Regions from separate parts of the Homo sapiens genome. Here regions 1 and 3 are each linked to region 2. The links come from fine-mapping of genetic effects on gene expression. A gene starts in region 2. Each other region holds a variant in brackets. All regions are shown on one strand. Distances are between the middles of the regions.

What was found. PIP is the estimated chance that this variant, and not a neighbour inherited with it, causes the effect. A credible set is the group of variants that fine-mapping cannot tell apart.
Region 1: its variant is the best candidate, but not a certain one, in a credible set for the expression of ZNHIT6 in nasal epithelium (TOPMed, PIP 0.58).
Region 3: its variant is the best candidate, but not a certain one, in a credible set for the expression of ZNHIT6 in stomach (GTEx, PIP 0.51).

The regions. Positions count from the first base shown.
Region 1 is chr1:85,818,300-85,822,545 of GRCh38, forward strand. The region is part of intron 45 of COL24A1 (collagen type XXIV alpha 1 chain); the gene reads right to left. Among named protein-coding and RNA genes, the nearest start is that of ZNHIT6, 110 kb to the left of the region's middle. The variant T/A (reference allele first, on the strand shown) is at 2,158.
Region 2 is chr1:85,706,198-85,710,443 of GRCh38, forward strand. It overlaps ZNHIT6 (zinc finger HIT-type containing 6), which reads right to left and starts at 2,236. Exons shown (of 10, transcript NM_017953.4): 1 at 1,432-2,236; 2 at 245-310; 3 at 52-158. The coding sequence starts at 2,087. RefSeq lists enhancers at 1,493-2,326, 2,029-2,388, 2,327-3,159.
Region 3 is chr1:85,672,026-85,676,271 of GRCh38, forward strand. All of the region lies in intron 8 of ZNHIT6 (zinc finger HIT-type containing 6), which reads right to left. Among named protein-coding and RNA genes, the nearest start is that of ZNHIT6, 34 kb to the right of the region's middle. The variant A/G (reference allele first, on the strand shown) is at 2,209.

The DNA of each region.
Region 1 (4,246 bases), 110 kb after region 2:
CTCAATTATATGATTTAAGAATTTAAACTGTACTTCTAAAAGGGACCTGAATAGATTATTTAATAAATGTCCCTACTTTCAGGAAGGGCCTTGATCTCCTTTTGAAAATGCTACATATTTACTTAATTCAGTAAACATTTATTGAGTATCATGTATCAGGGACTCTGTCATGCGCTTGGAAGGCAAAGGCAAAGTTCCTCCTTACAAGGCACTTACAGTGTGGTAAGAAGAACATGAACTGATAGCCTAAAATGTGCTTTTCTGGAAGAATAGAGAAGAGCATACTTGTGATTCAAGGAAAAGATATTTATTTCCCACGGAACTGTTTGTTTTTCCATGTGTGAGATGTTTTAAATCATAATTGATTCAGCAGTAATGGGTCTGCCAGGATAGTTAGGAACTTTGCTCTTGCAAATCATGCCATTGTTCTGATGACATTCTAAAAGTATTTAAAGAAGAAAATGTGGAAAAGGTGACTTGGTTCACAAATAAGAAAAGGAATCATGTTGTCATTACCAGACACATTTCTCAGAAATCATCAGAAGTTCTCACAAACAGGATAATCCCACTAAAATGGGATGTTAAATCATTCAATTTTGAAGACAAATTGTGCTAAAGATTCAGTTTAATAATAACAACAAAGAAACAACTTCAAAAGATGTTACTTTTTTGACAACCAGCTTAAACATTTTATGAAGAAATAGTATATGTTGTCACAGAGAAAAAGAGCATCTTCTCTAAGAGATAAAAATCCAACTTTTGCAGGATTTGACAATGGGGAGATATAAGGATCATGGGTTGTACTTCCAACTTTGAAAACTATTGTACTTGTCTTAGAAGTCACTAATGCAAAATGTTTCTAAAGATGAGGAAACCAGAAAATGGGATAGTTAGTGACCTGGGTTTAATTAAAGTATACACATTTCTAGAGCATATGATCCCTATAAGTAAAATATGTTTTTCCTAACACAATAAAAAAGCAAAATAAACAAAGACTATTTTAAATAGTGGAAAAAAGTTGTGATTTCAGTCATCTTGAAATACTTATTAAATAGCATATGAATCATAATATGCAATTATGTTAATCAGTGTGTTTTTTCCTTTACAGTATTTCTTTTTATGCAACGAGATATATCTGTTCTATACTTTTGATTTTTCAAAATAGACTTTTCCTTGGCTTTTGAATTTTAAAATAGTCCAATGAAACTCATGGTGGGGGTAACAGTTTGAAAAAAATATGTTTTCAGTTTCAAAATCATGTTTTTTAAACACAAAAGCCTGACTCTTAAATATTAAAAGTCTATCTTTGAGTTAAAAACCAAGGTTTGTTATAAAGGACTCAAGTCATAAAATTTATGCTATAAAGAACAGATTTAAAATAATAATAATAATGTAACAAAGAGTTTTTCCCATGAAAGGGGATAAAGATCCTCAAGCTGGGGAAAGGGAAAAGAAGAAGAAAAAGAGAAGCGGGACTGTTAGACACTGACGGCAATCTCTGAAAAGAGCCCCTTGCCCCTCATCCTACCCTTGAGTCTTTCTCTTTTCCTTTTTTTTTTTTTTTTTGAGACAGAGTCTCACTCTGTCACCCAGGTTGGAGTACAGTGTCATGATCTCGGCTCATGGCAACCTCCACCTGCCAGGTTGAAGTGATTCTCCTGCCTCAGCCTCCCAAGTAGCTGGGATCACAGGCATGCACCACCACACCCAGCTAATCTTTGTATTTTTAGTAGAGACGGAGTTTCACCATGTTGGCCAGGCTGGTCTTGAACTCCTGACCTCAGGTGATCTGCCCTCCTCGGCCTCCCAAAGTGCTGGAATTACAGGCATGAGCCACCATGCCTGGCCTGCCCTTGAGTCTTTCTTAGGGTGGATAGAAACACTAATGCTCCCAGATAAGTTTGGGGATCTGGGCACAAAGATGATGCCTAGGGAGACTAAAGTCCTCATTGAGAAGTCCACATAAAGTACATAGAGTAAAAATCTCTGCATGACATGTCTAGGACAGTGGGATTAAGAATGTCTTTCTGAGTCCTCCAAGTACCCTGTATGGTGTGGGGAGCAGAGAATGTTATTTATATGTGGCCAAGAACAGAAGAAGATGGCCCTGAGAGGCCTGAGGAGGTCTTGTACCTGAGATGAGCAAATAGCTGCACA[T/A]GCCAGCATAGGTCAAAATACTTCTGGCAGGAGGGCCAAGGTAGATGCCAATACGGTGAGACAATAGCAACTGTGGGCCAAAAGTGATGATGTGCATTTCAGGGGACACTAGTGTGAACAGATGATGACTGAAGACTAAACTTATTTTCCACCTGCCTTCCCTACCATCTGTAACTCCAAATTTGAAAAGAGTGAGTGGGGAAAACTCTAAATCAAATGTAGGATATTTGAGTGAATGGGGTTAAAGGCAGTCAATGGATTAGATTTACAGTACATATAAAATTGTGCTTTCTTTTTGCCTGGCCAGCACTGAAAAATAGGTAGAGTGGCCCATTTGAAATCAGATCCATTTTGAAAGGCTTCTGTTCATTGGGACTGTGCTGGTTCACAGACTACTAGAGAAAGCAGTCTGATTCTTTTGATAAGGGAAATATTTTTTAATATGCAACGTTAATACAAACGCTTGTTTTTTGTTTGTTTAAATGAGGCTGAAGGACAGTTATCTAGATACTTCACTAGTTCTAACACTCTTTAAGAAGGCAGCTTTATAAAGCAAAAATAGATTTAGAGAGTTAAGCAAAAATTATTCTTTCTTTTTTCACCAAGAAATTTCAATTCATTGAAATCTGGAATTTTGTTTTGGGAGAACAAATATTTTGGCTTGAGTCTTGGTCTTTGAGAGTCATTATAGGACAGTTCACTCACATTTGCATTACAAAAGTCTTTTAAAAAATGTTGGTTCTGCAATTGGTTTTGACTTGCTCTAAATTTTTCTTTATAGCTGCCCACAGTCTTATGCCCAATGAATGAATTGGTTGGTTAGGTTAAATTAATCATATTTTACTTAATTTTTAAAAGATTACAAGTAATAGGCTTCTTCATAATAACAGGAGCTAGGAAATAAAGTTTCTAGTGTTGTTTCTGTTGCTAATTAGTTCTGTGATTTTAGGTAACTCATAATCTCTCTGGGATTTTAATTTCTTCATTTGAAAATTAAGAGGGTTATCCAGATAATTTTAAAGGGTCATTTCCAAATCTAAAAAATAAATTTAAAGCTTTGCAAAAACAAGATGACAGCAATTGGACAGGACCCATCTGGCCACTGAAGGTGTCCCTAGTGAATAATACACAGTCAGTCATTATTCTTGTAGCAATTAATACTATTTTAAATTCTAAGAGGCTTTTTAATGTGCCCTTGGGTTGTATGCCAGCATTACCCAAAGCAGGGAAGAACTAGCTTGCCTGGATTATACAGAATTTAAACTATGGCTTCTTAGCACCTTTTAGCTCCAACACGCAGGGATTGTTGACCATGTAGGCTAGAGAGGCAGTTGACTAGTAAAAGTATTTGATATTCATTAGCCTAATTTTAACATATACTAATAAGCATCAGAAAATGTCTTACTCCTGAGACCTCTCAAGATGGAAAAAGAAAGCCTGCAAATATGAAAGTATTAATTGTAAAAAAGTAGATACTTTCGGATCAAATGTTGGACAGAACTTGCATTCTTAGGCACTTACTGCAAATATAAGGAAGTAGCATGACAGCAGTAGCAGTATTCTAGGTTCCCAATGTTTTCTATGACTTTTTCCAATTTGAGTATTAAAAATTCTAAGTGAATGACTTAACTATCTTCTTTCTCTGCTTGTTTAGGCTTATCTTCGATATGATATTTTTATTTATTAATATTATTTATTGGGGAACCTAACAGAAAGTTACTGAATAGATGCCAAGACTATACAAAATGGGTTCTAGGTAAGTGAATGCCTATTTAACATATCTGATTCAACCCCATTTTATTACTTACTCCCATAAGTGGAAAACACAAATATGGGTGAAGGCTGCTTAACAAATCAGGAGAAACACAATCTCAAATCATTACTTTTTATTCATTCTCATCTAATTTATTATTAACAGTGTAGTGCATTTTCTTAAGAATTTAATTTGAAATCAATAGCATGTGAAGTCAGAATGCCTGAAAAACAGGGCAGCAATGAATTGAAGGTGCAAATGACAAAGTTGCTTGCTATTTAAAGTTGAGGCAATGTCTATCTGGCCACATGGAAAGAGAAGACTAAATTCAGTAAA
Region 2 (4,246 bases):
CATATACCAATGGCCAGGAAGCCTCAATTTGCTATGCATAAAGTGGCTTACCACTTAGGAGATTCATTTCAGTAAACTGTTGTATTGAAATGTATGCAGTTTTATCTCGAACTCCATTACATGTCAGTTCTGCTTTGTGTTTCTTTACACAGGGCAAACTGAAAAGACAAAGGGGAAGTACTTTTATATTTTAGGGTAAGAAAGGTACAGATACAGGTTAAAAGGTAGGAAGTTACATGTATACCTGCAGGAATATCGCATACAACGTGGACATCTGTACTTTGCTTCTTCTGTACCACAAGTCTCACACCTACAAAAGCCCACATGTAACATTAAATTATCAAATATTAATTGTATTTATTTATAAACTTAGAATTCCCAATCAATTTATAAACTCAGTGACAAGTAACTGATAAAATATTTGATAGCTGTTGAACATCATTTGAAAATTCTTCTCTATGAAACCTTCCCAAAACAACTACATTTCCAATGTTGTTAGTGATATGTAACTCAGGAAAATGTATTAAAATTTTTAAAACCCATCTCGCTTTTGACTTCTTTTTCTACTATAATCAGGGAATGAGATTATTCACTGATATTTTAACTTGTGATTCCTGGAAATGTGGTAATGATTGTATGTGTGTGTATCCAGAAGTCCAATTCATGAGCTATGTTTAGATATTTTTAAAGCACACACCAGACAAAGAATATAAGGCCAAGTGAAATTTAGAGAGTAGTAGTAGCACCCTTTTTCCTGAACTCCACGCCTAATCTAGAATGAGCATCGAAATAATCTAGAAATGCCATGTAACCCATCATCTGTCCTCAACTGCTCTTCTATGCTCCTGGGATACTGACAACCAAACTACAGTTACTTCTATTTAGCCCACTGTGTTCTAGACGGGAATATTCTCAAGAATCTGACTACTCTTATTTCCTTTGTCACATGATCCACACACTAAGGAAATTCAATCAAAAGCAATAAATATTCACAGCACCCATGAAGAAGCTTGATAATTGAGGTCAAGTGTATTTTTGCCTAGTTTTAACTTAATCTACTTTGTCATTGTTAGTTTTATTAGACTTTCTCATCTCTATTCTCTCTCAAAGGAATACCGAGTAAAGAGCATATTAAGTCAAGCCAGATCCAGTTCCAACTGATCTTTTGGTCCCCAGAATTTCCACTTTCCTAACTTGACCATTACCCATTGGACACTACTAATTTCATGTATTTTCACTGAATTTGTTGTGTTGTCATGTACAACACCCTCCACTTCCCAACCCACCCCCGCGAACGCCGTCTGACTCCAGAAACCCAAACTTGTGCTCATTTTTCATTATTCCACCTTCTCCTGATAGTGTGGTTTCCTTCACTCTAGACATGAGGACTCCACAGCTTTATTCCCCTAAATGGAATCCCCCATGCCCTACCTTGACATGGCCAGTTTCCGCTTGCAGCCCACCGGGTGATTTATCGGAGGCTCTTCTTTCACCTTTGTATCATCCACGATTTCTTTCTTCAGGAAATCCTTCTCTTCTTTTACACACTCTCCATGCATCAATTCCTCTTTTATGCATTGACCAACAAACTTCTCCTCCTGTTTTATCTCCAAGTTATCCTTCTCTTCCTTCACTTCTGACCAGTCCATTACCTCTTCCTTTACCTTCTCTTCCTTTACCTCTGGTTCACCCACCTTCGCTTCTTTTACCACTAAACTACTATCCGTCTCCTGCTTCACCTCCAATACGCCTGCGTTCTCATCCTTCACCTCAGGCCTATCCTCCACCTCCTGTTCTACCCACTGGCCAGCCAACCTGCCTTCTGTACCTGGCCAGTCTATAATTTCCTGCTTCACTACCGTTAGGTCCATCGGTATTTCCTCTGGCCTTTGTCCACTTCCTTCCTCTCCATCCCCTATCTCCTTTATCCCTGTCAGCCCTGTCCCCTCCTCTCCGCCGCCGAACTCCTCCGCCCCTGCTAAGTCCCTTACTCCCTCCCTGCCAGGCTCTGGACTTAGCCGCACCCCCTCAGCTACGCTGTGGAGACCTCCCCCAGACTTCCCTTCATTTTCAGCAGCAAACTCCATCAACTCACGATCCTTGGCCTCTGCTGCCACTCTATCCTTCAATGTGGCTGCTGCACACCAATAGGAGGAATTACCGGTCGGAATACCTACGGCGGCCCACGTGTGGAGCCAAGCAGCCACAAACCCGGAATAGCCTGCTTGACGCGACTGCTCGAATCGCCGTAAAGCTACGCTTTTGCGCCTCGCCCCTTCACGACTTGTAGAGCTCTTTACGGCTCTGCGGAGGCCCTGCCGGATTCTCTGGGCGAACAAGCGTAACTGCGTGACTTGCCCGCTGGGGTTCTCGTCTCCTTCCTGGTTTCCACCACCCTCTTCCCTTAGAGAAGCCTCCTGGGCCACTCCCTGGGCCACCCTCCACGCCCTGCTGGGTGTAAAGAGTGTAGGAGACCGGCAGAGGGAGAGAAGCGAAACCCTTACACTCTGGAAGTGGGAAAACCCACCCTAATCTGTGTTAACCATTAAATCCAATCTTGCATGAAAATGGAGGACACACCTGATGTTATTAGGCCTTTCCAAGCTTTAGTTTCTTAAAGCTATAAACTAGGGACCATGGTATTATTAATATAAATCTCCCAGTGTCATTGCAAAGATTATATGAGATCATGCATGGAAATCAACTAGCAGTGACGGACACAAACTCGATATATAACTGGGAATCCTGATGGGCTTCAAACCGCCTGGTTTCCACCACCCCCTTCCCTTAGGGAAGCCTCCTGGGCCACACCCTAGGCCACCCTCCACGCCCTACTGGGTGTAAACAGTGGAGGAGACCGGCAGAGGGAGAGAAGCGAAACCCTTACACTCTGGAAATGGGAAAACCCACCCTTATCTGTGTTAACCATTAAATCCAATCTTGTATGAAAAAGGACACACCTGATGTTACACCTTTGCAAGCTTTAGTTTCTTGAAGCTATAAACTAGGGAGCATGGTATTATTAATATAAATCTCCCAGTGTCATTGCGAAGATAATATGAGATCATGCATAGGAATCAACTGTCAGTGACAGACACAAACTCAGTGTATAACTGGGAATCATGATGGGTTTCAAGTAGGAAAGAGGGCATTAATTTTTCTTTCCATTCTTTCTAAGTAACAGCCTGCGTCAGGCTATTCCCCATTCCCAGCATTCTGCAGGATTCTCTCAGAGAACATCATAAATATATTAGGCGAAAGTGCCTAATGCCCGGTATTGCTGAATAACATTGCATTGTATGAATGTGGCACGTTTTTTCATGCATGTACCAGTTGGTGGGCATTTGGCTTGTTTCCAGTTTGGGCTATTACGAATAATTCTGCTTCCACATTCATATGCAAGTCTTTGTGTGGACATGTTTACATTTCCCGTTAAGTAAATAACTAGGAGTGGAATTGCTGGGCCATATAAATTTATGTTAATTTTTAAAGAAATGCCCAAACTGTTTTCCAAAGTAGCTATACCATTTTACATTCCTACTGGCTGAGGGTTCCTATTTCTCTACATCCCGGCCAATTCTTAGTATTATCAGTTATTTGATTATAGATGTGTAGGGGTACGTCATTGAGAATTTACATTTCTTTAATGACTAATGATGTTGAACATCTTTTCATCTGCCAACTGGCCATTTGGATATTTTCTTTAATGAAATGTTTATTCAGATCTTTTGCCCATTTTTAATTGACGTCTTTTATTATCAAATTGTAGTAGTTCTTCATATATTATGGATATAGGTTTGTGGTAGACAAGCACCAGTATGTTCCCCAGTGATTCTCCACCCCCACAGTGTTCAGACCAATGTGTAGACTGCTCCTGCATCATCCCAGGATTGGTCTGTGTCACTGATAGCATACAGCAGAAGTAATACGTTACCTCTAAGATTAGGTTTGGAGAAAGGCTGTGGTTTCTGCCTTAGGCTCTTGCTTTTTTGGTCTCCTTCCTAGATCATTCACTCTGGGGGAAGCAAGCTGCCAGGTTGTGAGTACCAAGAGGCCCATGTGGTAGTGGGCCGAAGTTACTGGCTCTTACAGGCTGAATTGTGTCCCCTCAAATTCGTGTGTTAAATCCGTAACACCCAGTACCTTAGACTGTGAGTATATTTGGAGATAGGACCTTTAAAGGTGATTTCGTTAAAATGAGACCATTAAGGTCGGCCCTAATCCAATCTGACTGATATCTTTATAA
Region 3 (4,246 bases), 34 kb before region 2:
CTGGAAGGATAATATTACTATTTTTTACTAGTATACAGTTTCACTCTGAAGATATCCTAATAATTAGTAGAGTAAGGTCATTCTTTTCAAAAGTAGTGTTCCTGAAAATGATGCCACCCCTACATGAAACTCAACATGCTCTTAGCCTCTCCAGACCTTACTTTTATCTCTCTGTAAACAGCAATCATGCCAGAAACTGTAGTCACCTTTGATTCCTATTTATTGCTCCCTATAGCCAACTTGATCACCAAGTCTTACTGCTTTTTTTTTGCTAGATTTTTACAGTTTTCTACTGCCAAGGAGACCAGATCCAGACAGCGTTAGTATTGGGTCTTGAACTAACTCTTCAACCTTAACTTTTAAAAAAAAGTTTAAAAAATACTGCTCTGCATACATCTATACACTCCAACCTCCTCAAATCACTTACTTGCCTTGTTTATGACATACCATGCCCTTGCACTTCTTAAGGCCCTCTGTACCCTCTCCTAGTCATAGGCCATTCACCTTTAATAAAAATCAAACATCACTTCCACAACAAAGCCTTCTGATGACATGAGGATACCTGCTACCTTCCACATCACTTTTAAGACTTAGACATAGGTTTCTTATGATATATACAGTGTGTCTGTTTTCCTTACTACAACAGAACTGTATTTTATTCATTCTTGTATAAACTCCAATTTTTATTTATATGCCTAGAAGATTAAATGTACTTAATGGTTTTTTTTGAATAAATTTGGAAAGGATCATCCTATAACTGCTTAAATCACAAAAAAAAAAAAAACCACGAAGATTTACAAGTATCAAAGCAGCAAAGTAAACATAAAAAACAAAATGTATCTAAATTTCTTTCTGGTAAATAATTCCATAAAAGTAAAATCCAGGCTTAAAATTTAATAGATTTGGAAAACTGTACTTGAATAGACAAAGTTGGTTGTTTTATAAATTCTTCAGTCAGTAGTAACTTAAGTGGGCAGTAATACAACAGCTGCCCTCTGATAGTGCCTGACATTTAGCAACATAGGCTTTTCTAGTCCAAAACCACTCATTTACTTTCTGAGAATAGAAAGTTGGTAAGAAATAAGGCGGCAAAGGGCAAGAATGGCTTTACTAACACAAGCATCTTACATGAATGATCTTCTCCACAGGGGCAGGAACACTCTTCTTTACTGCCATAGCCTCAATGTCTAGAACAGCATCTAGACTTTGGCATACTCACTGTTTGCTGAATGAATAAGTGAATTTATTTAAAAAGCTATAATAGCTTTTCTAAGAGATAAATTCAGACCCTATGTATTCTGGAAAGAAAACTCCCAAACAGATCAGTAGCGAATTCCTTAGATTAGACATACATTCTAGGATCGCAATTTAAAAAATAAGTCATGTATGGCAAAGCTAAAACCTGGAAAAAACTTAAGCATGCTCTAGCTGACCAGGTATATCTATATCATGAGACAATTGCTATATACCTTCCAAGAATGGAAAGTAAAACCAATGGAAACTGGCAACATCAAGTATTTGGTAAAAAGACTTTACTCTGAAGTTACTGTAATGCTGTAAATGTAGAATTAAACAGCCACAAAGAAACTACATGTTTCTGATTTCTAAGCACTTTTCAGGAAATTAATAAAATGGTTCTATTTAGAATGCTTATCTTAAATTAGAGCTTAACATTTATAACCTATAATAATTTTCCTTAGATGTTCTCTGAATGTACTTTCCTTTAAGGATGTAACTGTAATGTACTTTCCTTTAAGGATGTACCAATCAAATGTAAATGCTCATCTTAGTCCATTCATGAGTATGTTACAGAGAACATTATGTTTTAAAAATCTGATAAAAAATAAAAATCTACGCCTAAATATATCTCTATACTATCTAACTTCATTACTTATGACTACAAAATACTTATAAAATTGAGGTTCTTTAGAAATTAGCATAACTATGCTTTGTGGCTGACCTAATAATCAGAAATATAAAGATGCCCTATGCCAATTTAGGTCCAACTTCAAGAAGAAAGCTACCTCAACAGGAATTTCTGACATTATTATTGCTGTCAAATGATGCCATCACTACTCAAGGCTAAACAGAATGGCAATTTTTAAATTGGACCTGGGACATAACCTTTTCCCCCTTCCTTTGCTTTGATAGTATTTTCATATATTACTTAGTTCGAGTCAATAGCAAAAATGGGGGAATTTGGAAGAT[A/G]AGCTTTCTCCACAGATAAGGTAGAGTGAAAGTACTTTCATGTTCCTCAGACTGGCTCAGGTTTATCTTTTTCTTTTTTTTTTCGGAGACGAGGTCCTGCTATGTTTCTCAGGCTTGTCTCAAACTCCTGAGCTCAAGCAATCTGCCTGCCTCATCCTCCCAAAGTGCTGGGATTACAGGCATGAGCCACAGGCACCCAGCTAGGCTCAGGTTTAGTATCAAATCAGTCTATTCTAGGTATTCCTTATAGTCAACACCACTTACTTTTTACTTTATTAATCTACTATTCCCTTCACTTTGGCGATTAAAAAGGTCAGTTTTGTTTAGTAAAATCCTAAAATCAATTCCACGTAATTCATGTTTAAACAAAATAATTTACATTGTTTCCTTGGAATTTACCTCTAGTCAATCATTACATAATTCTTTTATTATCTGTTTCATCTTCTAAATTCAGTTCCTTTCTTGCCATGTGCCATATTTTATCTAATTAGTTCATTTAAATGTTACTCATGTTTTAAGCCATGAGACCATGGCTTTAGTCTCACAAGCCTACTAAGAGAATATCTCTGAGGGCTAATGTGTCCACTCACCTAAGCCAGTCAAACTTGACTCTGACAAAATAGCCTCTTCTTCCAAAATTCAAGGAAATCAGAATTCTTGGTAATAAAAGATAAACAGGGGATACTGAGTATTTTAAAATTTATAGTATAGGACACACTGCTTGGGCCCAGAGAACAGTTATTTTTTAAGTTGGAAATGTGTACTGTAAGTCCATGAAGAGCCGAAGTGGATGGAAATCTCTTTGTCCTAGCATACCAGGGTTTTTGAGAAGAGCTGCAGTAATGCCCGTAAGATGTTATGTCCCCAAAGGGAGCAGTTAAGGAAACTGCTCTCATGCCATTGCATAGAAAGGAATCAGGATACCCAGAGACCACAACTCAGAAAGCTACAAGTCAAAACATTAAGACTTATTTTAACAAAGAGCCAAATGGGATAAATCTAAACAAAAAATACGTCAAAGAAGTATGCTTAAATGAAACTCACATGACCTAGCTCTAGGCATTCAACTCCCCTGTGCTTCATTTTCCTTTAAGGTCCTCACTCTAATGTTATAACTTTCCTTCTTTAGAGTCCCAAAGAGGATCGAAGTTGTCAATAAGCAGCAATGTTTTGAAAACAAACTTTTTTTTCTGAGCAGTAGACTTAAAATATTCAGTAAACCATGCCATAAACAGATGTGCTGTCATCCAGGCTTTGTTGTTCCATTTACAGAGCACAGGCAGAATAGATTTAGCATAATTCTTAAGGGCCCTAGGATCTCTGGAATGGTAAATGATCACTGGCTTCAACTTTAAGTCCCCAGCTGCATTAGCCCCTAACAAGAGGGTCAGTCCATCCCTTGAAGCTTTTATGGCAGGCATTTACTTCCCCTCTCTAGCTAAGTCCTACATGCCATCTTCTTTCAATACAAGGCTATTTTGTCTACATTGAAAAATCTGTTTAGTGTAGCCACCTTCATCAGTTATCTTAGCTAGATCTTCTGGATAACCTGCTGTGGCTTCTACATCACCATTTGCTGCTTCACCCCACACATAACCCACAGGTTATAGAGATGGCTTCTTTCCTTAAACCCCATGAACCAACCTCTGCTAGCTTCAAACTTTTCTTCTGCAGCTCCCTCACCTCTCTCAGCCTTCATAGAGTTGAGAGTTAGGGCCTAGCTCTGGATTAGGCTTTGGCTTAAGGGAATGTTCGGGCTGGTTTGATCTTCTATCCAGACCACTAAAACTTTCTCCCTATCAGCAATAAGACTGTTTTACTGGCCGGGCGCGGTGGCTCACGCCTGTAATCCCAGCACTTTGGGAGGCTGAGGCAGGCAGATCACCTGAGGTCGGGAGTTTGAGACCAGCCTGACCAACATGGAGAAACCCCGTCTCTACTAAAAATACAAAATTAGCCGGGCGTGGTGGCACATGCCTGTAATCCCAGCTACTCAAGAGACTGAGGCAGAAGAATCGCTTGAACCTGGGAGGCGGAG